Linked DNA regions of Homo sapiens. The protein of the gene in region 5 purifies or fractionates together with the protein of the main gene of each other region. This does not show direct contact. Each region holds a gene or a part of one and is shown on either strand. Other genes may lie near its edges. The genes, in order: ATF6B, VEZT, POMT2, ITGA2, TMED6, LRP12 and KCNJ8.

Region 1 (3,483 bases), on a different chromosome or scaffold from region 5:
TGTCTTTCATCTGGACTCTCAAGTCTCAGTCCCCTCCAGTTTAGGGCTTAGAGGATATCCTGCCACATCCCCCTTCCCTTCCAAATATCACCCCTTCTTCACCGAGACCCCCACTTCCTGGGCTCTGAGCCTCTGGCCCCAGCTCTTGTTGTTTGTTTGAGCTGCTCATCCTGGACAGCAAGAAGAGGGGGAGAACCTGCTCGAGAGCAGGAGACCCAGAGGCTGCTCACCCTGAAGGGCGTGGGGCCCCATCTTTCCTGTTGACTCACATTCCAGGGATGCGTATCCTCTAGTCTGTCACGCCATGAGACATCGTTGCTAGACACAGATATACCCCAGAGTTGCAGGGGTGGGGGCAAGGGGATGACATGCGGTCTGTGATCCCGCACCCACCCCACCTCAGAGCCAGCTATGTCTTCAGTGCTTGATTCTTTGATGCTGGCTCTGGAAAAGCCACTTTCCCCCAAACTCCCCATCACGAGCCAGGAAGGCAGCCACCATTCCTTCAACTCCCTCCAAGTTGTTTATTTAATAATAATAAAAAAGAAATGCACACACATAAACCTGAACTCCCCCCCACCCCACCCTCCCTTACTCCCAGTAACTAGCTCCAAAATGAAAAAACTTCCCTTGTCCCACCTGGGGACTAAATTCCCACCTCCACTGCCATAACACTAGAGAAACAAAATAAAAAATATGCAGCAGCTCACCACCCACCCCACAACTGAACCTCACACAATCCCCTCAAACAAAGAAGCCAGGACTGGGGGTTCACAGGAATGAGAGGAGCCCTATATTCTGAAAAGGGATGAGAAGAGAGGTGAACACCCCCACCTCAAATAAGTGCTTAACCCCCACACCTGCTCTTTCCTTTACCAATTGCCCCAAGCCTGGGGATCAGGGAAATTTGAAACAGTCCCACCTGGCCACCTGGTACCCCCTCCCCCCGTTCTAAGTCAGTGTGAATGGCAGAGGTCAGGGATGATTGAGGTAGAGGGGCTGGTGGGAGGCCTGGTGGGCCTGGCTGGCTGCAGAGACTGGCAAGGGGCCACCTGTGGCATTGCCTGGGGTTGGGGATGGCTGTTTTCGGAGCGAGGGGGGCACTGTGGAGGTCTTGATGTGAATCACCCTGGTGTCCATGACCTCACACTCGATCTGCATCATCTCCTCATAGTCCCCCGGGGCCCCACGGCCTGACAGGGTCTCTGTGAGAAGGGGAGAGTTAAGGAAGAGGAGATGGGGAGGCAAACAGGGATTGCAGGGAGGAGGGGAGGAGGTCAGAAAAGTAGAGGTGAGCAGAGAGAAAAAGAAAGGGCAATAGTGAGGAGGCAGATCCATAGCGGGAGTTAAACAGGATGGCAGGGACAGAGTTTGGTGCAGGGGCAAGGAGAGGGTAGGAAAAGAAAAGGGCATTGAGTGTGGGGTCACACAGGAGAGGACATCAAGAGAAAAAAGTAAGTGAGAGTCTAGCAGGTTCCCGGCCCCCCGCCTCTGCCCAGTCATCTACCCAAGCACCTTCACCAGGGAAGGACCCTCACCCTTGTCTCCCTCCCAAGTCTCCTGCATGGTGCTCTTCCCTCCACCTACTTCCTGCTGCTTCTCACCTGTGGGTCCAGCAGCTCTCTGGATGCCCTGCTCCTCTCCCCCTTCCCCCTCAGCTCCCAGGCTGGATCTCCCTGTTGGAACTGCCCCCATACCCAGCAGGGAAAGAGTTACCATTGGGGGCCATGGCAGGCATCACCAGGGACATCTTGGGCCGGGAGGTCTTGTTGTGGCTGATGGCTGGGAGCAGCAGGTGGTCCTGGGGAACAGATGGGCCAGGCCAGAAGGGTGGAGGCAAAGATGCCAACAAGCTCCCCAGCCCTACTCTACATCCCCCCACTGAAGACAGACTGCTGGGAACCTGGGGTGACAGAGATGGAAGGGCAGGAGAAACTCACCCTTCGGAAAGAGACAACATAAAATGTGTCTTCCCGTCGGTCAATTGCATCCAAGAATGCTGGCTGCGAACGGTCTGGGTGGCGATATAGTTGCAGCTGGCCCACAGAATCCCTAGGCAGGTGGGGAAACAGGATTTGAGGGGAACTAAGCCCAATGCTCAGTTTCTACCAGGGAAGCGGGTAGGATGAGAGAAAAAGACAGGAGACCCCCAGTGGAGGAGGGAGGTATAATCCCACTGGTGACAGTAATGACAGGCACAGGACAGCTACTGGGGGTACAGCTCTTGAAAGTGGAATTTCACTTAATAAGTAAGCACCCCACCCCACACTCACCTTTCTGGGGGTCCAGGGGGTTGGATGGGGACTGCCTTAACTGGAGGTGACTTCTTCCGTGGCTGAGACTTCTGGAAGGAGAAGTATCTAAGGACTTGGAGAGGGTGAAGGGAAAAGGGAAAGAGACAAACAGCCCCTGGAAGCTGATGCCACCTCCCACTCAACCCTCCACTTCCTTCAAACGATCCCTCAAACTTCCACAGCGAGATGCCCACTAGAAATCCCCAGACAAGGCCTTTAGCCCTTGTCTTCAAGTGGCCTTCCTTGAACCAGCCACCCGCCCTACCTGTCTCTCCTGGGCCCTCTGAGGGATCTTCCTCCGGCCTCTCTGGTGGCGCTGGACCCAGCCACTCAACTCGTCAGCAAGCCTGGGGAAATGGAGGAGCTCAGGACCTCCATGCCAGGCCAAGATTCCCACCCTCCTTGCCCACCCACAGGAGTGAGGAGAGGGCAGGGAGCACTGGCGCTTTAGTACACAGGCCAGCCAGGCTGACTGCAGAAGGCCTTGGGAGGCCGGGGGAGCTGGATGCCCCAGCAATGAATCCCACACCTCAGGGACTCAGTGCGGTTGAAGTGCCGGCAATCAGAGGAGAGGAAGAGCTGGTCTAGGTCTCTTAGTAGTAGCTCCTTGGCGCCCCCAGGGAAGGCTGTCAGGTTGCTGGAGTGAAGCAGGAAGGAGACAACACTTGGAGACTGCCCAGCACTCCCACAACAAAGAAGGCGATGACGGCAAGAGAAAGCTTTGGGTCCCCCTCACTGAAAGCGGGGAGAAGACCAACTCATACCCTCAAACGAGAGGGGGCCCTCTCTCTCTCTCCTCACCTGAAACTGGGCTGGTCTGTGGGGCTGGGCTGGGGCTCCTTAGGGCCCTGGGAGGACCCCTGGAGAGGTTCAACTCCCTGAACTGGCTCTTGCTCTGAGAACCCCAGCAAGTGTCTCCGGGGTTGAGGCTCCCCCTTGTTCATCCGAGGAGAGATGGGAGCTGAAGGAGGCTCACTGATGCTGTGGATAAAGAAGGACTGAGCACAATGAAGAATTTCAGCTGTATCAAGTATCTAGGTAAGAATAAAGACTCTGCAGATGGACTGCTTGAGTTGCAATCTGTTATACAAGCCTGAGTCTGCCTCTGTAAGATGGGAATAAGGATGGTCCCTACATACAAAAAAGACAGTGCATCACCTAGAGCCTAGAACTCAGTAAGCACTTAATA
Region 2 (3,500 bases), on a different chromosome or scaffold from region 5:
AGCAGATATAGACCACTGGAATACCCTGAGTTCATAGTGTCTTCATTTTTCCTATGCCATAATCTTTATATCAGCCTTATATCAAGCCTTATATCAAGCCCAACTCAGGCCTTGAACTGATGGGTAAAAACTTAGCTTCTAAAAATATCTTTCTGACTTTAAGTTCCTATCCTTGTATCTCTTATCCTCCCTAATTCCAGTGATTTTGATTTGCTGATTTAGCCTTTTGATTTTGCTGATGTATCAAGTCCTTTTGACCCATTCTTATTTACATAATCAAATACTGCCTTCCCCATTCCACTTCTTGCCTTGTATCCCAGGGTCAAGTACATCAACTACAATCTTGTCAGCTCTTTAAATTCCTAGGACCTTCCTGATTACCAACACAATTTGAACCCAACCATTCATTTGATCCAGTCCTACACGATGAGTATTTAACTGTTAGAGAAAAATTTCACTGGAAATGACTGTATTCAATTAAATGCCTTGATTCAATTTTTAAACTTGAAAACTTCCATGTACAAATATGTGAAAATAGTATTTTCAGCTGATAAAGGTATACCAAAGTGGGACATAAAAATTTAGGAATTAAGGTAGTATACCAACAATTTCATGCAAGGTAGGAAATGAACAAATATAAACTCTAGACTCTACATTTTGCTCTTCAACTGGGACCACAAAGCTTGTCCTGTGATACAAAAAAATTTTCAGATCTGCTGTAATTTATTTAGAAAAATAGCAATATGTTACTCTTCCACTATATATAACATATATACTGTTCCAGTACTGGTAGATATTTCTATTGGACTGCAGGTTCCAGTTTAAGAGCACTACCTTAAGACAGTTAAAAGAAACTCATTCTTTATAACCATCTCCATTTCAGCTCTCAAAGAGAATGAACAACACCTGCTTTTAGCCTACTTTTCCAAGTTTTCTGTTGAACTAAGGAAAAGTAAAAACTATAAATAATAACTCCCTCAAGTTATAGTACTTATAAATTATTTTTTTTTTTTGCTATATTTATAGCTATAAATCACCCTTCATGCTCATGCCTCAGTTTTGTTTCTTTTTTCTAGGTAGGACACAAGCCAACAACCACAATGGTACACGAATGAAGCTTGCTAATTACCGAGACCTTTCTTGGTATAATTTCTAAACTTACTCATTCAGTAATGCTTTCAGATGGAGCTGCAAGCTACGCACTGCTGTGTGAACATTATTCAGTTCTCTTGACTTCTGTTGAGTTTTGGATAAACACTGCGGTACTGACTGGTGCTGAGTTTCAAAGTACCGATAGAACTCATAGCTGCGCTTAAGCTCTTCCAAACAGGCAGAATGAGCATGAGGTAGACCTTGAGTCACATCAGATAAGATACGATGAGGCAGAAGTGCTGGAGTAAGTAAGGGCCCAGGAGGTGAATTGGCTGTAGAAAGTAATAGGGCTAACCGTCTGAAGAACTCTGAACTCTGTGCCACCCAGAGTTGGAACAAAACCTTAAAGAAAAAAGAAAAAAGAACTAGATCAATAAAAATATTGGTCAGTGTTCAAAACAAACTATAAATTTGTTTATCTTAACTTCTGGTTTAAATTTTGCACTTTATCCTAAATAATAAATATAGCCGAACTTAAACTACCTTAAGATTAGCCAAGAATATGATTTCAAATTATGTGTGTGGGAACCTCTGATTCCAATACAGCAGGTAACATCAATATATAATTTACTACAGTTCTGCCCTAGATGGGAAGTGTTGATGGAATGAGATAATTTAGTAAAAGTGAATCTTCACTCATTATTTAAAAAAAATTTTCACATAGGAGAAAAGAAGATAGTAGGACTAGTGGATATATATACATATATATATATATTTTTTTCTCTCCAAAGAAATGAGTCACATGGATCAAAAGCTTGGGTTTCAAAATAAGACTATTACCTTGCCCTAGGAATTAGCTAAGAAATTAACATAAAAATCAGTCCAGGGCTAGGCGCAGTGGCTCACTTTGGGAGGTGAAGGCGGATGGATCACTTGAGGTCAGGAGTTTGAGACCAGCCTGGCCAACATGGTGAAACCTCGTCTCTACTAAAAATACAAAATTTAGCCAGACATGGTGGTATGTGCTTGTAGTCTCAGCTACTTCGGAGGCCGAGGCAGGAAAATCATTTGAACTTGGGAGGCAGACGTTACAGTGAGCTGAGATGGCGCCACTGCACTCCAGCCTGGGTGACACAGCAAGACTCCATCCAAAAAAAAAAAAAATCAATACTCCAGGAATGTCTGACATGAGAAATTGCAAAACCCATTATTTTAATTAATTAATTAATTAATTTTTGTGATAGAGTCTTGCTCTGTTGCCCAGGCTAGAGTGCAATGGCACTATCATAGCTTACTGCAACCTCAAACTCCTGGGCTCAAGTGATCCTCCTACTTCAGCCTCCTGAGTAGCGGGAAACACAGGCATGTACCACCATACTCAGCTAATATTTAAGTTTTAGAGATGGGGTCTCAGTATGTTGCCAGGATAAATCCCATTCTTCTTCTTTTTTTTAAAATGCAGTCTGAATATGTTCATAGGCCCGTTCCTGAGATACATCCTGAATCCTGGCAGCAAAATATTTCTCCAGATATAGTCCTATTCAAGATGAGGACAATATCTCCGAAACAAATGCATGAGGAAACAATGTAGTATGAAACAAGAGGTAGCAGGGAATAAAAAGAGGATGAAACCACTTTGGGTAATTTAGATTCCAATTATTCACAACCATGAAAATAGACAGTATTTAGATGGTTTTAGTAAATGAATTTTAAAATTATGCCAATAATGAATTAAGATTATTTCATGTATATCTATTTTACCATTAACTTATTTTTTTTTTAAAGTGACCAAGGCCTAATTTCCTAGTTGCTACAGATGTGATATCTAGGGATTCTTGACTTGCAAGTTTACTTGCAAGCCTTCTTATTCAACTGTTAAATTTTATGATTACAATGATTTTTATTCTTTTGTTCGTTCATTCAGAAATGATTTCTTGAGCACCCATGATGTGCCAGGCACTGTTCTAGGTGCAGATAAACAGCAGTGAGCAAAAATGAAGAGTCCCCACTCTGATGGAGCTTATATTCAAGTAGAGGGGCACAGATAATAATTTACAAGTAAAAGATACTATTTCCCTTTTGCAGTAATGATTGTCGAGGAAGAAAAAGAAAGATAGTGTTTCTTGGTTGATGGGAAAAACACAGCAAAGAAGAGGAATAGTGTGTGTGTGTGTGTGTGTGTGTGTGTGTACACATATGAAAGGGGGGGAATAGTGTGTGTGTGTGTGTGTGTGTATGTGTGTGTACACATATGAAAGGGGGGGAGAGAGACAGAAAGCGCGAAGGAGAGAGGAGAAGGGGCTGGCTGGGGAGGTCTCTAAAAGTGTCACCTGAAGGAAGTGAGCCATGAGATAATCATCAAGGAAGAGAGTTCTAGGGAGCAGGAAGTCAAATGCAAAGTACTGTTG
Region 3 (3,500 bases), on a different chromosome or scaffold from region 5:
AACCCTGGAGGCTCCTCTCTAGCCCATGAGAGGACAGGGCCATGGAACAAGGAGGTGGCAGAAAAGATGGGCAGCTCTGTACACAGCATGGGGCTAAAAGTGAGGGCTGTGGAGTCAGATTGCACGGGTTTGAGCCTCAGCTCTATCACTTACTAGCTGTATGTCCTGGGGCAAGTTTCTTAATCTCATGGTTCCTTGGTTTCCTAATCCATAAAATGGGGGTCATAATAGCCAACGCTCTAGTGTTGTTGGGAGGAAGTAAAGTGTTTAACACAGCACTGGGTACTTGGGGGTTGTTACCTTTCAAAAGCAAAGGATAAGGGAAGGTGTGGGGTGGTAAACGCAAAGGATGGCCCATCAGCAGGCAGCCGGCCCTCCCCAGGGGTGCAGGTGCCCTGCTGCCGCCAGGTCAGGGGAGGGAGAGCCCAGAGGACCTGACCTGCAACCTCCGCTGGCAGCCGTGCCCCTCTCTGCATGGCTACAGCAATGATGCTCCCTGAGAGGAGGTAGAGGGCGATGCTCAACAGATTCAGCCACCAAACCACCTGTGCAGAAATGGGAATGGGCAGATGAGAACGCAGCCGCTCTCCACGGGCAAGTGCTCCAGGGCCTGAGCCGGGAATGTTTAGGCACTCACCGGGTTGCCAAGCAGATAGACTCGGAAATCTGTGTCATTGACCCCTGAGAAGCGTAGGCCCTGTGGAATAGAGACCACCCTGCTGACCCAGGCCCAGCCCATCCTCGGCCACACCCATTAGGGGGAGGAAGATGGTCACCTTCCACAGACAGGGAGCCTGGACACGAACCTCAGGCTGGCAAATTCTACACGAGCTCTCTGGGAAGCAGGGTCAGAATTAGGGCAGAAAACAGATACTCCCACCTCTGGCCAACCCATCCCAGGAGGCCCCTCGCCCTGCCGCCCTAGTACACCCACCCCCGCCTCCACCGGTCTCCCTGCTCTTGTTCTTGGCTCCATTTCCTGGGAGGAGCCCCAGCCTTGGATCCTACCTGATAGTTGATAGGCCAGTGCCAGGGTTTGGACGTGAACTCATTGTCCTTGGGTTTGAGGCCACTGTTCCCCTGCATGAAGGTAGCAAAGAAAGCTAGTCAAGACAGAGATCTAGAGGGCTGACAGAAATGTGGGGCCCAGGTTTTTCTGATATAGGGCCAAGCGCCGAGCAGAACCTTCTCTCCTTCCCTTCCCTTGCAGGGAAGAATCAGGCAGCTGCTGTCTGCCTACCTACGACACTTGCTTTACTTCTCCCAGACAAGCCTCCATCTCCCATAAGGGGTCCATTCCAACCTTCTAGGGAAAAAGAAGGGAAAGAGGAAATTGTTCCAATGGGCACAAAATATATACCCATCTGCCAAGCTAAGGACAAGGTGTGAAAATGGTGGGAGAGAGGGGATATAAAATGAGGCTTACAGCCGGGTGCAGTGGCTCATGCCTGTAACCCCAGCACTTTGGGAGGCCGAGGCGGGTGGATCACCTGAGGTCAGGAGTTCAAGACCAGCCTGGCCAACATGGTAAAACCCCGTCTTTACTAAAAAATACAAAAAATTAGCTGAGCGTAGCGGTGGGTGCCTGTAATCCCAGCCACTTGGGAGGCTGAGGCAGGAGAACCACTTGAACCCAAGAGGCGGAGGTTGCAGTGAGCTGAGATCATGCCATTGCACTCCAACCTAGGCAAAAAGACCAAGACTCAGTCTCAAAATAAATAAATAAATAAATAAATAAATAAATAAATAAATAAATAATAAGGCTTACTTATTTGTTCCCTTCAGGGGCCAATTTCAAACAGAAAAGCAGAAACTCTCATGCGTGCCTAGACTTGGAAGAGGTTGCTTTAGCTTAGTGCTTCTCCACCTTTTTTTTCCACTACTGCCCCTCTACCAGGAGCCTTTGTAGACAAGTTTCTCCCTAAACACACTCCATGACATTTTAATACTTTATACTGTACATCTTACTTGTGCTTTATACATAAAAAATTAGATATTTTGCCCTCCAAGAACACATTTCATCTATTGGGAGAGAAATCAACCCTAATGCATGCTTTGGTTTGAAGGACCCAGACTCAGCCTCCCTAATCCAGCAGCCAAGAACATCTGCTAACCTTTCTCTACAGGGCAAACCAGGTCTTTGCTAAAACAGGAAGGAGTAGGGTCAGGATCCAGGATATTAACCACTAGGACTGGGTTCTGCCTTATCACTGGGACAGACTGAAAAGGCATTTCCCCAGAAGGGGAGTCAGCTGCCATGACTTAGGCCGGAGCTTCTCCACCTCAGCACTCCCAACATTTCGGGCTGGATGAGTCTTTGCTGTGAGGACTGTCCCGTGCATTGCAGAGTGTTTAGCATTCCTGGCCTCCACTCACTGAATGCCCGTAGCACTCCTACCCTCAACCCCTCAGTTTCCCAGCCAAAAATTTCTCCACAGATGGCCAAAAGTCCCGAGAGGCAAAATCACCCTCAATTAAGAACCACTGGTATAGCCTAAGAAAGACCCAGAAAGTTCAGTGGACTGCCACCCAGTGCCTTATGAATCCAGTTCAGCAAGGGGCTGGGAATAGTTTACAGGCCTCTACATGGTGGAGAGGTTGTGCCTCCAAGGTCAAAAGTGCATCCAGGGCATCAGACACAAAGGGGACAGCTGCACGGCCCCAGCGTCACTGCGGCCCTTTGAAGGACCTGGGAATGAGGAATGAATCATTCTGGACCCCTGCGGCAGTTGCTGAGGGAAACCAATTCCTTCAAATTGTACAGTTTGGTCCCAAACCCAAGGACTCCAGCCAGAACTGTACCAAGCCAAGGGAATCTTATTCACTACATTAAACTCTGAGAAATCCTGCTCTGTTGCTAAACTAAAAGAGGAAAGAAAAATCTGCAACCATCACAGGCATATGTACTTGTAAGTTGTTCTCTATGGCTGAAATCTGGATGGGCTCATTCCTGTAACTGCACCAGGCAAGGCAGCCTTCTCCTCCAGGTCCCGGGCCACTACTCAGCCAGCGGAAGAGCCCTGCCCCTGCAGTTTCTATAGTCTGGACTCACTGTTTTCATCTCTCTCCCCTCCCTGACTCTTTGTTGGCTGAATAAGAAAGCTCTCATTACTTCCCTTTTCTTCTCTGACTCTACTTCTTAGATAATGAAAGACAAAATGAAACTCGTAGATTTAGTCTTAAAATTTGACCCAGGCCCAGAATGATATTCTGACTGACAGGCACATGTTCAAAAGAGCTATGTCATCAGGCCACAGTGACAGCTACAAGCAGAGAGTCAGAAAGGAAGTGACCCAGAGATGCTTAATGTCAACTTATCACCTCCCAATGCGCAAAAATGACAAAATTTGAATTTTTAAAATTTAATCTGGTGAAATAAGTCAACTATATGTACTGAGTACTGCTTACATAATCACTTCCAGGGAAGTCCACTTGACAATGGCTTACCAGGGGAAAAATAACAAGTGCTACACCTCCCTGCAATGCTGTGGGTAGAGTGA
Region 4 (3,500 bases), on a different chromosome or scaffold from region 5:
TCCCTCAGAAAAAATGTAAATGAATCTATGCACGGAGAATTTTGCACACAATCCCATGAGGTTTTTGTACATACGCTGAAGTCCTTTCATGCACCCCAAATCCAGAGTCCCTCAATTTACTACAGTCATTCACATAACTTCATGGTCTCTTATCCTCAAAGTAGAACACATCTTTTCCTTACTTGCTATTTTTCATGGCTTGTATTTTTTAGTCCAACATCTTATCTTTGGTACGCTCTAAGATAGAAGAACAAAAAATTAAAAATAGTGTATCTCATCCTCACCAAATCTGCCTCGTTTGATGATTTATAGCATTGAGTGTTTAGATTGGGTTTCAAGTCAATCCAGAGTAGGCATCTTCCTTTGCCCTCCCCACAGGGCTGACAAATGGTTATTTTCCTTCCAATAGATTGAATGTCACAGCTAAAGTTGCCTCTTGTAGCTGTGCTATTATCAAATAGATGGAATATAGGAATATACTGGAACATTTGAGAAGGGGTCAGGAAGAGAGAGGAAGAAAGCTGAAAGTAGAACAGGTCAGAAGAGGGCCTCCCGAGCCGTGTCTGGGATAGCAGAAGTATCTCCGTCTCTCCCGTGTCAGTACTTCTGTTTCTCAAGCATGTCTCATATCCGGCTGTGAGCTTTCCTTATAAATATGTGGAGTGAGAGACTCACTTCTGACTCCTTTGTAAAGTTCATAAGGGTTTACCATTGGCAAATATATGCCTTTGAAAGGGAAATTTGAAGATGGCTCTGTACCTGTCCTGTACTACAGGTTATTACAAAGGTTTGTCTGTATAACATATCATACTAAATAAAGTCCAAAATAACACAGCCAATGGGAAGGCTTGTTCTCTAGCACAAATATATTAAGACAATTCTACAATATGTCAATATATGTTCATATATATTTCATCATTTTTAATAAATCTAAACAACTTATTTCAATGTTTTGCCTACCCTGCATTCTTATGTTTTAAAGGTGATTTGTTTCAATGATCTTCATTTTTCAATTATTTTAGGATATTCTGATGCTGGGTGCAGTGGGAGCTTTTGGCTGGAGTGGGACCATTGTCCAGAAGACATCTCATGGCCATTTGATCTTTCCTAAACAAGCCTTTGACCAAATTCTGCAGGACAGAAATCACAGTTCATATTTAGGTAAGGCATGGTAATAATTGGCTCAGCAAACTTAAGTTCCCTTGCTTTAAACCAGCTCTTTGTTGAATCTCAGGGTGAGTTCAGCAAAATCCTTGAACTGTCATCTAATTATCATATTTATTACACATACATATGTTGTCTCTTTGCCAATCGGGCCTTAAGGCATAACTACTTATTGGAATACTATATTATACTCACTAGTTTCTTCTGGCTGGTCAAGTGGTTGTAATTCCTGGAACATGATTGTGTTCCTCCAAAATGGAAATAGTTCCCAAAAGTCAATACAGTAAGTGATAGTCTTATAGTATTTTAGAGCTCTTAGTCTTCTTGTTCTTATAATAAGCAGCCACTGATTTTGCAGACTTACTATGGGACAGTTCCTGAGCTGCTAGTCTATCTACATAAACATTTAAATCTTTCCAACAAGTCTTTCAGGGATGTTTTGCCTTTGAGAGATAGCAAGATTAACAACTTGTCTAACGTTCAACAACCTAGTAAGCGGCAAATCCAGAATCTGAACCTCAGCCTGTTTCCAAGACCTGTGTTCTTTCTACTGTGCAACACTACCTTTTAAATACATTTATTCATTCGTTCAAGAAATATTTTTTGAATGCCAGGTTCACAGGTGGCTGATGAGAACAGCGTGGAATCTAGAGGCAGTTTTATAGGTAGAAGTCCCACCTGCAAAGGGAAGTGCTGCAGGTCAAAGGACAGGAGCAATTCATCTTAGAAAAAGGAAGACATGTCCTCAGTGATGTATTCAGGAGCACTAGAAACTTTGCATCACATCTAACACAAAAGGATCTCTGGTCACCTTTACTCACTTCTTTTAACTTTATTTTGCTCAGATAGTCAATGTTAATCACTCTGTTGCTCCTTCCCTTTTAGGTTACTCTGTGGCTGCAATTTCTACTGGAGAAAGCACTCACTTTGTTGCTGGTGCTCCTCGGGCAAATTATACCGGCCAGATAGTGCTATATAGTGTGAATGAGAATGGCAATATCACGGTTATTCAGGCTCACCGAGGTGACCAGGTAAATCTCACTGTTTAGCAGGTGAAATTAATTTTAGGGGCAACTGGGCAGGTGGGGAGTCAGGTGAACAGAAATGGAAAACAACATGGCCTGAGTGCCTACTCTGTGATTGGCTCTGTAATCTGAGTTTACTTAGTGTATTCCTTAAATCATCACAACAATACCAAGAAGACAGCCCTCCCTTTTGACAACTTACTGGGAATTTAGCTAGCTTTCTAAGGTCACACAGCGTCCATGGATTGAGCTGTCATTAAAACTCAGTCCTTTCTGGACTCAGAGGCTGTCCTGAATGATTACATCCCCTTCATGTTTTTGACTCCCTGGATTAATAATGCATGGATATTATTTAGTTGTGATGGCAGGCATGTAACCACTGCTTTGTAGGTAAGCACACACTAGGAACAAGGATTTGGAGAGGAAATAATGAGAAGAAGGGAGCAGCACAACATTATAAGGACTGAACTTTTACATCTGAACCTGTCAGAATGTCCTGTTGGTTTTGAAGATTCTAAAAGTAAAACAATTATCTTCTCTGCCACTTTCAGCTGATGGGTGACAGTTTGGTAGTTAGACCCTATGATGAATCCCAGATATGGCCCACTACAGCAAAGATCTGTTGCTAGAGCAAAGGCCAGCTGATTGCTTCCTGTTTCCTTACTAAACAGTTTTGACCCAGGGGCTTGACACACATTTAAAATGAGCATCACTAATCCCTGACAACCAACAAAAAGTGGTTTCCTTCTTTAAGCTGGAGAAACTTACAAAGATTTCTCTTCTCTGAGATTAAGTGTGATCCTGCTGTTCCTATGGATTTTCTAGGAGTAAGAAGACCCGAGTTCTTGACTTCCGTGACCACAAATTAGCTATGGTCACATACTTTTCTCTCTTTTTTAATATTTTAAAGAAGTTCTTCTTTAATTTAGAAAATAACAGTGACAGTGTTATGGAAGGAATCATTTCTTAGTCATTTCTAAATCCTCAAAAAGTGTTCACATAGGCATGCATTGAACGTTGTTGAATGGGATGAAGGTTCAAAGTCTCAGCTTTTCTTATTTTAATTTATCTCCACCTTGTCCTCCTGTCCCAATCTATCCAGCAACTACTTACCTGTCTCATATCATGCCATGTACACTTACATCATCATATGTGCTTTCCCACTTCCCTCTGCCTAGAAAACTCCATGTCCTTCTTACTTTGCAATTTGAATGATATTTTAACTTTCTAAGCCTTCCTGACTCTCCTGCTCTCTGATCACTCAGCCTTTGGGACTTGCCTCTATTACAATTTATTTTACTATAGAAGCTT
Region 5 (4,255 bases):
AAAATGTCTTTTTTAGTGCAGCTGGCTATTAAAGAGGGCAGTTAAGACACTGCTGCTCTCCAAAGTGGGACAGGCTTGACCTGGCTGGAGGAGTGCTTTGCTGTGGAGTGTGGATATCTCACATGGATATCATGCATTTTCTTTTGTTCTGAATCTGCTTTTAGTAACTGACTCAAATATTCTGATGACTGGAAAGACATGCTTCCCTGTAATCCATTTGTTAATTGGAATTCTGTATTATAAATGGGTCTCTGTTTTTTGGTCACTTTCCCAGAATCTGATTAACTGGAGATGATGAGATAAAATTGAGCGGCTGAACCCTAGACTTAGAATGCTCACCTGGAGTGTTGCCCCCAAATCGTCAGTAGACTGCCACTTGGCATCCTTGGAGGTCAGCAGCCTCCAGGAACACTGGTTTTTGGTGTTAAAGGCTGAATTTTTTTCCTACTGTTAAAACATCTCTGTATACTTCCTCATTATTTCTGTAATTTCATAGGACCCTATGATTATTATAATAGCCATGGTAATGAAAACAGACCTGTCTCTTGGGTAGAGAAGTTAATCTGGCCCCGAACACCCTGGGAGGTGTCTATGAGAAATCCCTGTGGGTTATGTGCCGTGGCAGCAACATGCCGGTCATGTGACATCCCCACTGTCCGCTGAACCTGCCAAGACACATTAAATAGGTAGCAGAACCCCTGCTACATCACGAGGAAGCCAGCTGAGTGGTAAGATTGACGTCCCACGGTCATCAGCACAGCGGTCTCTGTCTGGGGTGGGACTGCCCAACCCCCTGCTGGGGTTTGGAGTTGATTGGAGGATTCTGAGGTATCACAGTGATGGTGTTAAGGGGAGGCAGCACAGCATTGCTGAACGTCTGCAATGTAAGAAACAGTACAGCAGGACAAAGAACTGCCCAGAATGCCAACAGCACCCGTGTGAAGAAGACATGCCTTGCTCGGAACACACAGCTAGTGTGGATCCACTAAAATGTATGATTCTGGGCCGGGCGCGGTGGCTCACGCCTGTAATCCCAGCACTTTGGGAGGCCGAGGTGGGCAGATTACAAGGTCAGGAGTTCGAGACCAGCCTGGCTAACATGGTGAAACCCTGTCTCTACTTAAAAAATACAAAAATTAGCCTGGCATGGTGGCGTGCGCCTATAATCCCAGCTACTTTGGAGGCTGAGGCAGGAGAATTGCTTGAACCCGGGAGGCAGGGATTGCAGTGACTCGAGATCATGCCACTGCACTCCAGCCTGAGCGACAGAGCAACACTCTGTCAAAAAAAAAAAAAAAAAAGTACGATTCTGGCTGTAGAATTTTTTATTTTTTTTGAGACGGAGTCTTGCTCTGTCACCCAGGCTGGAGTGCAGTGATCTTGGCTCACTGCAACCTCCACCTCCCAGGTTCAAGCGATTCTCCTGCCTCAGCCACCCAAGTAGCTGGGATTACAGGCACATGCCACCAAGCCCGGCTAATTTTTGTATTTTTAGTAGAGATGCGTTTTCACCATATTGGCCAAGGTGGTCTCGAACTCCTGACCTCAGGTGATCCGCCTGCCTCAGCCTCCCAAAGTGCTGGGATGACAGATGTGAGCCACCGCACCCGGCCTGGCTGTAGAGTTCTTGAATGAACTTGCTTGGTGGTTGAGCTCCCCAATGATGTCCCAGATTTGGGCATTTGCTGCTTGGCAGTGCACACCTACAACAAGCACTCCATGGACACTTGCTCCCAAGCTAGATCTTGATTAGGCCAGGCCACAGTGAGCTTAGTAGTGGCTGCTGTTCTAATAGAAATTCAGAGGTAAGAAAAGTCTCTGATAAGTTTATTTAAAATAAATGTTGTTACAGTGGAGTAAGATCAACAAAGTCTATTACTATGTAAACAAAAATTAGAAAGTTAACCGATTTCTAAGATAAAGAACAAAGGAAATGAACAGCCTCTAACTTTCATACTGAGTTCACCATCCTTGGACAGCATGATATAAGACCATAGTATGGGTAAAAGTACTTGACCTTTGAATAAGTAACTTGAAAACACTTACCGTCCTAAAAAAAAAAAATAGGATTAACTGGCCGAATACAAAAAACTTGACCTAGTGAATCTCTGACTTGCCAGAATTGCTCCTAAAGGCAGCAGAACCTTTACTCCCCCACCCCATAAGCTGAAGCAGCCTTCTTTGAAATCTCTGGATCAGTCTCCAAAGCACCATTATCCAATTTTGTTTTAATATATTAAAAATGTATTCTCTCCCCTCTCATCCCCAAATCCGAGTACATGTAATGATTACCTCTTCAGGGAGAGGCACCCCGTCTGCCCCATGGCTTTGAGCATGGCCCCTGATGTAAGAAGCCAAACCATATGTTTTAGCTCCTGTTGGTGATTATTCACCCAGCTGGAGTTTCCCTCTAACTGCAGGTCCATTTCATTAACAGGTGGGGAATCACAGCATAATAAAGACAACCAGACCTTGTTTTGGCCTAAAACCTGACCCACTTTATGAGTAAAGGAGAAAAAAAAAAGCCCCCCAGTATGGCCAGTCACCCACATACCTCGTAACTGAAATAGAAGTATCCAGTCTGGTGGGCAAATTGCCAAAAGCATTCCGTGCCTCCTGGAGGTATCATGATGGCAAAGTCATATCGATCAGCTCCACGGAAGAGTGGCTGGTCCCCAGAGCCACTTAGAGGTTCTGTCTTCTGGCTCCTGGCAGACGTCACTAGATTCAGAACGACCAGCCCAGCCCCAAAGAGCAAAGGGGACATGCCGCTTTCTGGAGCCTCCTCTGCAGGTGAACTGCTCGCAGCCCAGGGAAATCAAGTCGTTCAGACAACCGCTGGGCTAATGATTAACTCCACAAGTCACATTACGGCCCATTTCAGGGCCACACATAGATATTCATCATAGAACTGCCATGATACTCCCATGTTTGGCTCGCAGGAGGAAATTTTGCTTTCACCTCAAAAACTCAGTGGCTTACCAAACCTACTTCATGGGTGCTACATAGAATCTACCACCTCAGAAGAGGTCTTTCCACCCTTCATTAGGGCTGTCATTTTTTAGTTCCTGCTTCTTGGGGATATAATAGTGGGTAAGTTTACAACTTCTGAATACACTGACAAAAAGTTGGCTGGGGGGATTGTTCTCTTACATCAAATTGCTCCTATAAACACATGGGGCAACACTTCTCTCTCCCCAATGCTGCAGCTCAGAGCAAATCACAGCATGTGTGTGCAAAGATGTAAATGGATGAATACAGTGCCAGAGGATGGTGCTTAGACCCCTCCACTGACAGTCCTCGTCCTGATGCCTTTCACCTAACGGTCACCTAAAGCTATCCAAACCCACTGAAAGACAATTATATTATCCAAAGCCTCAATCTTTTTTTTTTTTTTTTTTTTTTTTTCTGAGATGGAGCGTAGCTTTGTCACCCAGGCTGGAGTGCAGTGGCACGATCTCTGCTCGCTGCAACCTCCACCTCCCCGGTTCAAGCGATTCTCCTGCCTCAGCCTCCTGAGTAGCTGGAATTACAGGTGCCTGCCACCATGCCCGGCTAATTTTTGAATTTTTAGTAGAGACAGGGTTTTACTATGTTGGCCAGGCTGGTCTCGAACTCCTGACCTCAAGTAATCCACCCGCCTCGGCCTCCCAGAATGCTGGGATTACAGGCATGAGCCACCACGCCCAGCCTTGATCTTTCTTTTATTCAGGACTTCTTCAGCACCCATGGGGGAAAAAACTATCCAGAACCCACTTAAAGACAATTATATTATTCACATCCTTAATCTTTATTCTTTTATTCATGATTTCAACACCCACCTCCTTCATGGCAGGCACTGAGCTAAGATTTACCTGCATCTTATTTTATTCTCACAATAGCCCTGCAAGGGAGGTATTGTGAGCTCTGGCATTAGAGATGAGGACACAGACATTCAGAGATTCCAGTGGTGGCTCACGCTCCCACAAGCACACCTGGCAGAGCTGGGTCCCCGGTGGGGGCTCATGCTCTTAACCACCAGGCAGGACAGTGTTTCTCATTCTCAAGCTGTCAGTCTCTGAGTTCTGACACTGCCTAACCATTTTTCAGTCCTAATCTTTTTTTTTTTTTTTTTTTTTTGCTTCCTTGAGATGGTATCACTCTGTCTTCCAGGCTGGAGTGCAGTGGCACAAACATAGCTCACTGCAGCCTCACCCCCTTGGGCTCAAACGATCCTCCCACCTCAGCCTCCCAAGTAGCTGGACCCACAGGAGTG
Region 6 (3,978 bases), on a different chromosome or scaffold from region 5:
TTCATTAACAGAGCTAATTATTTTTGAAGCCTTTTAAAACACACACACACTTTTTACTGTATAGAGGACAGTTTCATAAATTACAGCTAGTATCTGTTCTAACAGGCTCAAGGCGACAGCTATTTCTCAGGATGCATCCACCACCCATTACAACTACTATATATTCTAAGTTACTCAATTCCCACTATTGTTATAGAACCACATCCACCCCATACTATTGTTACAGCCCTTTTTCACTATTATAAACCCACATATGGTTAGAGACAGAAGAGGACAAAAAACATGCAGCCATAAAGAGGATTTCTCAGTTCCAGGGTGAAGGGTTCCCTTTAATCTCTGCTGATATAGTTTAATGTTCTGCCTGGTTCACTACCTCCTTTTTTTTTTTACACTTTGAAACCTGCTGTGGCTTGAGACATCAACCTTTGGCATAATCACCTGCTGGTTTTATAATCTGCGGCCCACACTGTTGGAAAAAGGAGTTTCAGTCTTTGCTTACTAACAATTTGTGTTCCTCACTGAACACAAATTCCAAAAAGATAAAAGCTTTGATAGGCACCTACCAGAAAGTCACTTTGTGTACAAGTACTAAAGAATGCACCAAAACAAATTGAGGGGTTCACAGCCTCTTATCCCTCGAGGCAAAAGACTTCTAGTTCAAACACTGATGACACAGGTTTTAATGAAAGAAGAGCCCATTTATTTATCTATTCTGATCGGACATCACAGAAATTCAATGCTTATTATAGTAGAGGACAAAGCTGGACAATCCTAATCACCCTAAATTAAAGATACCTCTCAATTTCTTCTCTCTCCTGGGCCATTACACCAAACCTAGAGCAGAACTATACCCACCTTCAGGGCAGAAGAAACAACGTAATAGCTTATTGATCTCTGGTGTAGACCCAAACCCACAAGTCATCAGGCAAGCAGGGATTACAGCCACTTGATGCAGCTAACAATCAAAAGTCGTGTACTGGGTTTTTGGTCCCACACAAGCACACCTCTGGCAATTACCCCTACATAAAAAATGGACCAAACTACTCTCCTCACCAAAACAAACAAAAATACTACTAATCAGGTACGGGAGCAACACATCCTTAATTGTACCAAAAAGAATTTCTTGGCTGTCAGTAAATGCCCAATTACGTTCATTAATTCTTCATTTAGCGTCACTTGCCAGGTTTCAAAAGCCACCATCACATTCAATTCCGTAGATAAATGCCTTCAAAAGAGATAACACTTGCTGACAAATTGGCTGTTGACTAAACCTCACCACCACCACCATTATACTAGTCAAATCAATGTTTGTGGCAAATGAATTAGACTTTTTATAAGTAAAATTTACCAAAGTAATGATATCTTCTAATTCTTTTTCTGGAGAAATCAGAGCAACACTCCAAAAAGGAAAGGTTAAAACTGAGCTCTCTGAAATACCTATTCAGTGTGTTTAACTGATGAACTAAGAACGGTGAAGTCAGAAGTGTAACTTAATTATCTTAAGAGATAGATGTTCTTTGCAATTAATTCCATTCAGCTCTTGCTCAGACCCCAACGCAATATAAAGCTGTCCGCACAGTCTTCAGCCTTCTCTTAACCCGAAAGGAGTTATCTCTAACCCGATCCATCGACTGGAATAAAGTAACAGTGACCACAGCGGCGGACGAGGATGGATGAAATTACAATTGAACTAGGAGTCAGGACAGATGTGTACACCCTAACAGGAGAGACTGAGGTGGGGCTGGAAACTATTTTCTGGCCTTCTCCCGCGTGCTGCTCCCGGGGAACCAACAGGACCCTGCACGCCCGGATTCGGCAGAGCCCTTGCCCCCGAGGTGGAGTGGGGAGAAGTCAGCGGGAAGCCTTTTCAGGGAATCGAGTAGGACAAGGGCTGGCGCGGTGGGAATCTCGCCGGTGAGAGAACTTCCTAACCCCGGGTTGAGGGGGCGGGGGGAAGGACCGTCCCGGCAGCGGCGGGGGCGAGCTCCTCTGCTTTCTCACAGTCAAGCATCTTTGTGTGTGGATTGTGCCAGGCTACGGGTCCTGGAGCAACTGGCCGCGGGGGCCCTCGAACCCAGGTCGGGAAGTCCGCCCGCCACCCCCTCGCTCCGCCGGGGCCCTCCCGGCCGGGCCCCCCAGCCCCTCTCCACCACCCGAGGGTCTGGAGGTGGACGAGTGGAGAAAAGCATCTCCGTGTGGGGACACCCGTTCCGCCACATCCACCCCCTCACCGGTCTTTGTCCCGCCGGTAGCCAGGGTCTCCGCGGGAGTCTCCAGGGGAACCCCCGTCCTGGAGGCCTCGGGGCCCGGGTCGCCTCAGCTTTGTTCGGTCAGCGGGGCGCGGGGACGCGGACACTTACCGTACACCCCAGCGAGGAAAAGCAAGAGCAACGCAGACCTCCACCGCGGAGACTCTTTTGTGCTCCAGCGACAGGCCATAACCACAGCAGATGGAGAGAGAGAGGAGGAGACGGAGGAGGAGGGAGGAGAAGCTGGAGGTAGACGACGCCGACGCCGCCGCCGCCGCCGCCGCCGCCGCCGAGCCACCGGCTGCTCCCTGCGCTCTCCGCGGCTGCGGGAGGGGGAAGGGAGGGGCCGCCGCCGCCCGCGCGCGCTCCCTCCTCCCTCCTCCCTCCGGCTCGCCTGCTCCCACCCCGGGCGGTGCGAGAGCCCCACGCGGGGCGGCCCTCCTGGGGGCAAGGGCAAGGAGCTCGCGCGCCAGCGCGAGACGAGAGGGTGGCGGACGCCGGACTCCGGCCTCGCGCCGCTCGGGCTAGCCGGCGCCGCCACTCGCCAGACTGAGCGCGCGCCCATCCGTGCGATCGGCAATCCCCTGGCCCGCCTGCCTCGGTTCCCTCCCCGCGCTCCGCTGGACTTTCCAAGTTTCGGGCCGATTTCCACGCGACGGGAGCCCAAGGAGCAAGGCAGCGCCAATCGATGACAGAGCGTGCGAACGCCGGCTGCTGGATGCCCAGGGGCTGGAGCGCGGGGTGTGTGGAGGAGCACGGTCGCTGTCCGAGGGCTGGGCTCTGGCCCAGCGGGTGGGGGGAGGGGGGGTGGGATACCAGCTGGGAGGCTGAAGGTGGTTCCGTGTTGGGGGAGGCGTGGATGGTCTGAAGCTGACAACTTGGGAGTTCCTTCCTCTATCCGGTACCCCCAAGTCTCCACTTGCTGTCGGCGCGGAGCTTCGAGTGGGGGTGGGCTCAAGTTAGTGCGGCCAACCTGGCAGCTGGTCGGTCAAGGGGCAGTGTGGACTCCCACGCTCAAGGTGCCCGGAATGAGTCGGGCAAGGCTTGTGCAGAGCCCCTCCAGTCTGGCGTGGAAGCGCCAAGAGGTCATTTGACATCTCACGCTGGGTCGGGTGCAGCTGGGCCAGGATGTTCGGCAGGGCTGGAGCCGACTTTCAGGGTAGATATATTGAAAGGAGGATTCGCCCATCACGCTGCAGTTTCCCTAAAGCTCTTTTCTCACTCCCAGCAAATGGGAGTCCTCCTTTACTTAGATCCCCAGAACACTTTTCTAAGTACGTCTGTAGTGACGCTGGCACATCAGACCTTACCCCCTGTGTTTTTAAAGCGTTTGTCTACAACGTCTTATTTATATTAGATTTTATCGTTGCCCTTTGCAAGCACTCTCCATGCTATTCATTGAAGACCTACACTGCATCATGCTGTCCTATTGACATAGGTTGTCACTTTTTAATCCCAAACATCCTTGTGAGATAAATATTACCCATGTTTTATAGAAAAGAGAGAAATTAAATTACTCATGGCAAGTAAGTTGTTTGAAACAGTTTTTCTCATTCCAAAGTAAAGATTGTTGCCCCTATACCACAGCAAACTCTCTAGCACAATGCTTAGCGCCTAGTAATGTGTCGGAGTTGGTGCCTGCCAGGGGGTTCGTGGTCTCCCTGACTTCAAGAATGAAGCTGCAGACCTTCCCGGTGACTGTTAACAGCTCTTAAAGATGGCACGGACT
Region 7 (3,500 bases), on a different chromosome or scaffold from region 5:
AATGGTAACAGCAAACCTTAAAAATCTTCATTCTCTCCCAATGAGAATGTAAAAGGTGACTAATAATAATTCTAATTCTTTGCATTTTTCCCTTTGTGAATTCAATGTCCAACCATATCACTAAAATTGGAAACAACATTTTTCATTGAATATTCACCAGTATTTCCAAATAATGTTTGACCATTCTTCTCTTAGGGTGACTCATTTTCTCCTCCATGTATTTTCTCCTGCAAGGAGTCTCTTTGACTCCATTTAATATGAGTCAAAAAATAGACCAATATATTTCCTCTTTCTCGATATTATCCAGCCTACCTCTTTCTGTAACAGAACAAAGAAACAGCTAAACACTTTTATCTCTTGAGATTGTTTAGCATAGCAAGTGTCAGTAAAAAGCTGGGTCTTGTACCATATGTAATATTTAGAATTCATAAACAATATACAAAATGTGGCTCATGAATAGTCTCTTAAACCATTAAAACAAACTATTTGGGATATTTATCATTAGACTGCTCTCTGAGGTATGGATACATTATCAGAAATCAGTGTTGTATCCATACCCCTTCTCTGGGGTCCATTTTTATTCTTGCCATGTTTTGGGGCTATACCAGATATCTTTTTGTGGGTAGTTAGTGCAATAGGCAATTACTGTAGTTTTCCATGAATCATTTTAGCAACAAAAGAGAAAGGCAACTTTCGCACTTCACTTAAAAGCTAATCAAAAGAATAATCCATGTATTCTTGCTTATCCCTCATAATTTTCTACCAAAGTGCACTGTACATACCAAGTACTCAAATGTTTAAACATTTTTCTCACCTGCTGTCTGTAGCATTAATAAATAGGTAATACTTTGAGAGATTGCTAATGTGTAGGCTTGTCTTCTATAAAGTTAGAGAAGTTTGAAATTGTGGTTGGGGGCAAAGATAGAACTAATATTGTTTCTATGAAGAAGCCACAGCAGTACTTGTTGTGAAATTAAGTGTTATAAATTGATAGTAACAAATGTGGTGCTTCCCATATGGGAGTAAATCAGAATCCCCTGAGAACTTTTCAAAAGCATCTTACCCAGATCCAACCTCAGCCTACCAAATCAATGTCTATTCACTAAGATAGGGAGTAGATGTGCAATTTGAAAAAGCTTCCCAAGAAAATCCTACAACTTCTTGGTTCCTTCCCTCTGCTTCTTTCACAGGATTAGGCCAAAGTGAGAAAATTCAAGTTAGTATAATATTAATTACAGGTATACCTTAGAGATATTGCAGTTTTGGTTCCAGACCATTGCAATAAAGCAAATATCAAAATAAAGACAGTTACACAAACCTTTTGTTTCCCAGTGCATATAAAACATTTATATTATATTGTAATCTAGTAAGTGTGTAATACCATTATGGCTGAAAAATATACATATCTCAATTCAAAAAATATTTTAATGCTAAAAAATGCTAATGTTCATCTGAGCCTTCTGCAAGATGTGGTCTTTTTGCTGGTGGAGGGGCTAGCCTTGATATTGATGGCTGCTGATTGATCTGGGTAGTGGTTGCTCAAGGTTGGGGTGGCTGTGGCAACTTCTTAAAATATGACAATGAAGAGTTTGCTGCAACAATTGACTTTTCTTTTCACAAAAGATTTATCTGTAATGTGTGATGCTGTTTGATAGCATTTTACCCACAGTAGAACTTCTTTCAAAACTGGAGCTAATCTTCTCAAAACCTGCCACTGCTTTATCAACTAAATTTATGTAATCTTCTGAATTCTTTGTTGTCATTTCAACAGTGTTCACAGCATCTTCACCAAGAGTAGATTCCATCTCAAGAAACCACTTTGGTTGCTTGTCCAGAAGAAGCAACTCCTCATTCATCCAAGTTTTATCATGAGATTGCAGCAATTCAGTCACATCTTCAGAATGCCCTTGTAATTCTAATTCTCTTGCTATTTCTACCACATGTGCAGTGACTCCCTCCACTGAAGTATTGAACCCCTCAAACTCATTCATGAGAATTAGAATGAACTTCTTCCCAACTCCTGTTAATGTTAATATTCTGACCTCCTCCCGTGAATCACAAATGTTCTTAATGGCATCTAGAATGGTGAATCCTTTCCAGATGGTTTTAAATTTACTTTGCCCAGCTCCATCACAGGACTCACTATCTATGTCAGCAATAGCCTTATGAAATGTAAATTTCTTAAGTAATAGGCCTTAAAAGTCGAAATTACTCCCTGACTCATGGCTGTAGAATGGATGTTGTGTTAATAAGCATAAAAACAGCAATCAACTCCTTCTACATCTCCATCAGAGCACTTGAGTGACTAGGAGCATTGTCAATGGGCAATAATATTTTGGAGGAATCTTTTTTTCTGAGCAGTAAGTCTCAGCAGTGGGCTTCAAATATTTAATAAATCATGCTGCAGACAGATATGCTGTCCTCTAGCCTTTATAGTTCTACTTATAGAGCATAGGCAGAGTCAATTTAGCATAATACTTTGGGGCTCTACGATTTTCAGATTGATCAATGACCATTGGCTTCAACTTGATGTTACCAGCTGCATTAGTTCCTAACAAGAGTTAGCCTGAACTTTGATGCTTTGAAGCCAAGCATTGACTTCTATCTAGTTATGAAAGTCCTGGGTAACATCTTCTTCCAATAGAAAGCTGTTTCATTTTCAACACTGAAAATCTGTTGTTTAGTGCAGCCACCTTTACTAATTTTCTTAGCTGGATCTTTTGGATAACTTGCTGCAGCTCCTCCATCAGTACTTGGTGCTTCACCTAGCACTTTTCTGTTTTGAAGGTGGCTTCTTTTCTTAAGCCTCCTGAACCAATCTCTTCTAGCTTTAAACTTTTCTTTTGCAGCTTCCTCACCTCTCATCCTTCATAGAAATGAAGAGAGTTAGGGCCTTGCTCTAATTCAGGCTTTGGCTTAGGGGAATGTTGTGACCTAGTTGGTCTTTTATCCAGACCACTCAAATTTTCTGCATCTCAGCAATGAGGCTATTTTGCTGTCTTATCATTTGTGTCTTCACTGGAGTAGCACTTTGAATTTTTTTCAAAACTTTTTCTTTCCACTGTTCACAACTTGGCTGTTTGGCACAACAGGCCTAAACTTTGGCCTATCGTGGCTTTTGACTTGCCTTCCTCACCAGCTTAATCATTTTTGCTTTTGATTTAAAGTGAGAGACAGCGAATATTTCCTTTACTCGAACACTTAGTGTTCTTTGTAGGGCTATTAACTGACCTAATTTCAATAGTGCTGTGTCTCAGGGAATAGGAAATCCTGATGAAAGGGGAAGAAACAAGGGAACAGCTGGTCAGTGGAGGACTCAGAACACACACATTTATCGATTGTTTGCCATCTTATATGGGCATGGCTCATGGTGCCCCAAACTAGGGGTTCCCAATCCTTGGGCTGCAGACCAGTACTAGTCTGTGGCCTGTTAGAAACCAGGCCACATAGCAGGAGGTGAGCAGTGGGGGAGCAAACATTACCTCCTGAGCTCTGCCTCC

The links.
Region 1: the proteins of TMED6 (region 5) and ATF6B purify together in Homo sapiens (affinity purification with mass spectrometry; 2 studies listed by BioGRID and IntAct, with this or other methods). This does not show direct contact.
Region 2: the proteins of TMED6 (region 5) and VEZT purify together in Homo sapiens (affinity purification with mass spectrometry; 2 studies listed by BioGRID and IntAct, with this or other methods). This does not show direct contact.
Region 3: the proteins of TMED6 (region 5) and POMT2 purify together in Homo sapiens (affinity purification with mass spectrometry; 2 studies listed by BioGRID and IntAct, with this or other methods). This does not show direct contact.
Region 4: the proteins of TMED6 (region 5) and ITGA2 purify together in Homo sapiens (affinity purification with mass spectrometry; 2 studies listed by BioGRID and IntAct, with this or other methods). This does not show direct contact.
Region 6: the proteins of TMED6 (region 5) and LRP12 purify together in Homo sapiens (affinity purification with mass spectrometry; 2 studies listed by BioGRID and IntAct, with this or other methods). This does not show direct contact.
Region 7: the proteins of TMED6 (region 5) and KCNJ8 purify together in Homo sapiens (affinity purification with mass spectrometry; 2 studies listed by BioGRID and IntAct, with this or other methods). This does not show direct contact.

The regions. Positions count from the first base shown.
Region 1 is NC_000006.12:32,114,764-32,118,246, forward strand, and holds the end of ATF6B (cyclic AMP-dependent transcription factor ATF-6 beta), read right to left. Parts: intron 3,276-3,483; coding exon 3,096-3,275; intron 2,932-3,095; coding exon 2,824-2,931; intron 2,642-2,823; coding exon 2,560-2,641; intron 2,345-2,559; coding exon 2,274-2,344; intron 2,053-2,273; coding exon 1,941-2,052; intron 1,802-1,940; coding exon 1,717-1,801; intron 1,206-1,716; coding exon 976-1,205; 3' UTR 501-975; downstream 1-500.
Region 2 is NC_000012.12:95,280,307-95,283,806, reverse strand, and holds part of VEZT (vezatin), read right to left. Parts: intron 1,495-3,500; coding exon 1,163-1,494; intron 1-1,162. UniProt on the Homo sapiens protein: Plays a pivotal role in the establishment of adherens junctions and their maintenance in adult life.
Region 3 is NC_000014.9:77,279,384-77,282,883, forward strand, and holds part of POMT2 (protein O-mannosyl-transferase 2), read right to left. Parts: intron 1,081-3,500; coding exon 1,009-1,080; intron 698-1,008; coding exon 638-697; intron 546-637; coding exon 440-545; coding exon of another isoform or gene 301-439; intron 204-300; coding exon of another isoform or gene 154-203; intron 1-153. UniProt on the Homo sapiens protein: Transfers mannosyl residues to the hydroxyl group of serine or threonine residues. Coexpression of both POMT1 and POMT2 is necessary for enzyme activity, expression of either POMT1 or POMT2 alone is insufficient.
Region 4 is NC_000005.10:53,058,852-53,062,351, forward strand, and holds part of ITGA2 (integrin alpha-2 precursor), read left to right. Parts: intron 1-1,022; coding exon 1,023-1,161; intron 1,162-2,049; coding exon 2,050-2,195; intron 2,196-3,500. UniProt on the Homo sapiens protein: Integrin alpha-2/beta-1 is a receptor for laminin, collagen, collagen C-propeptides, fibronectin and E-cadherin. It recognizes the proline-hydroxylated sequence G-F-P-G-E-R in collagen.
Region 5 is NC_000016.10:69,348,987-69,353,241, forward strand, and holds the start of TMED6 (transmembrane emp24 domain-containing protein 6 precursor), read right to left. Parts: upstream 2,801-4,255; 5' UTR 2,768-2,800; coding exon 2,555-2,767; intron 666-2,554; coding exon 539-665; intron 1-538.
Region 6 is NC_000008.11:104,586,459-104,590,436, forward strand, and holds the start of LRP12 (low-density lipoprotein receptor-related protein 12 isoform a precursor), read right to left. Parts: upstream 2,801-3,978; 5' UTR 2,440-2,800; coding exon 2,361-2,439; intron 1-2,360. UniProt on the Homo sapiens protein: Probable receptor, which may be involved in the internalization of lipophilic molecules and/or signal transduction. May act as a tumor suppressor.
Region 7 is NC_000012.12:21,768,207-21,771,706, reverse strand, and holds part of KCNJ8 (ATP-sensitive inward rectifier potassium channel 8), read left to right. Parts: intron 1-3,500. UniProt on the Homo sapiens protein: Inward rectifier potassium channels are characterized by a greater tendency to allow potassium to flow into the cell rather than out of it.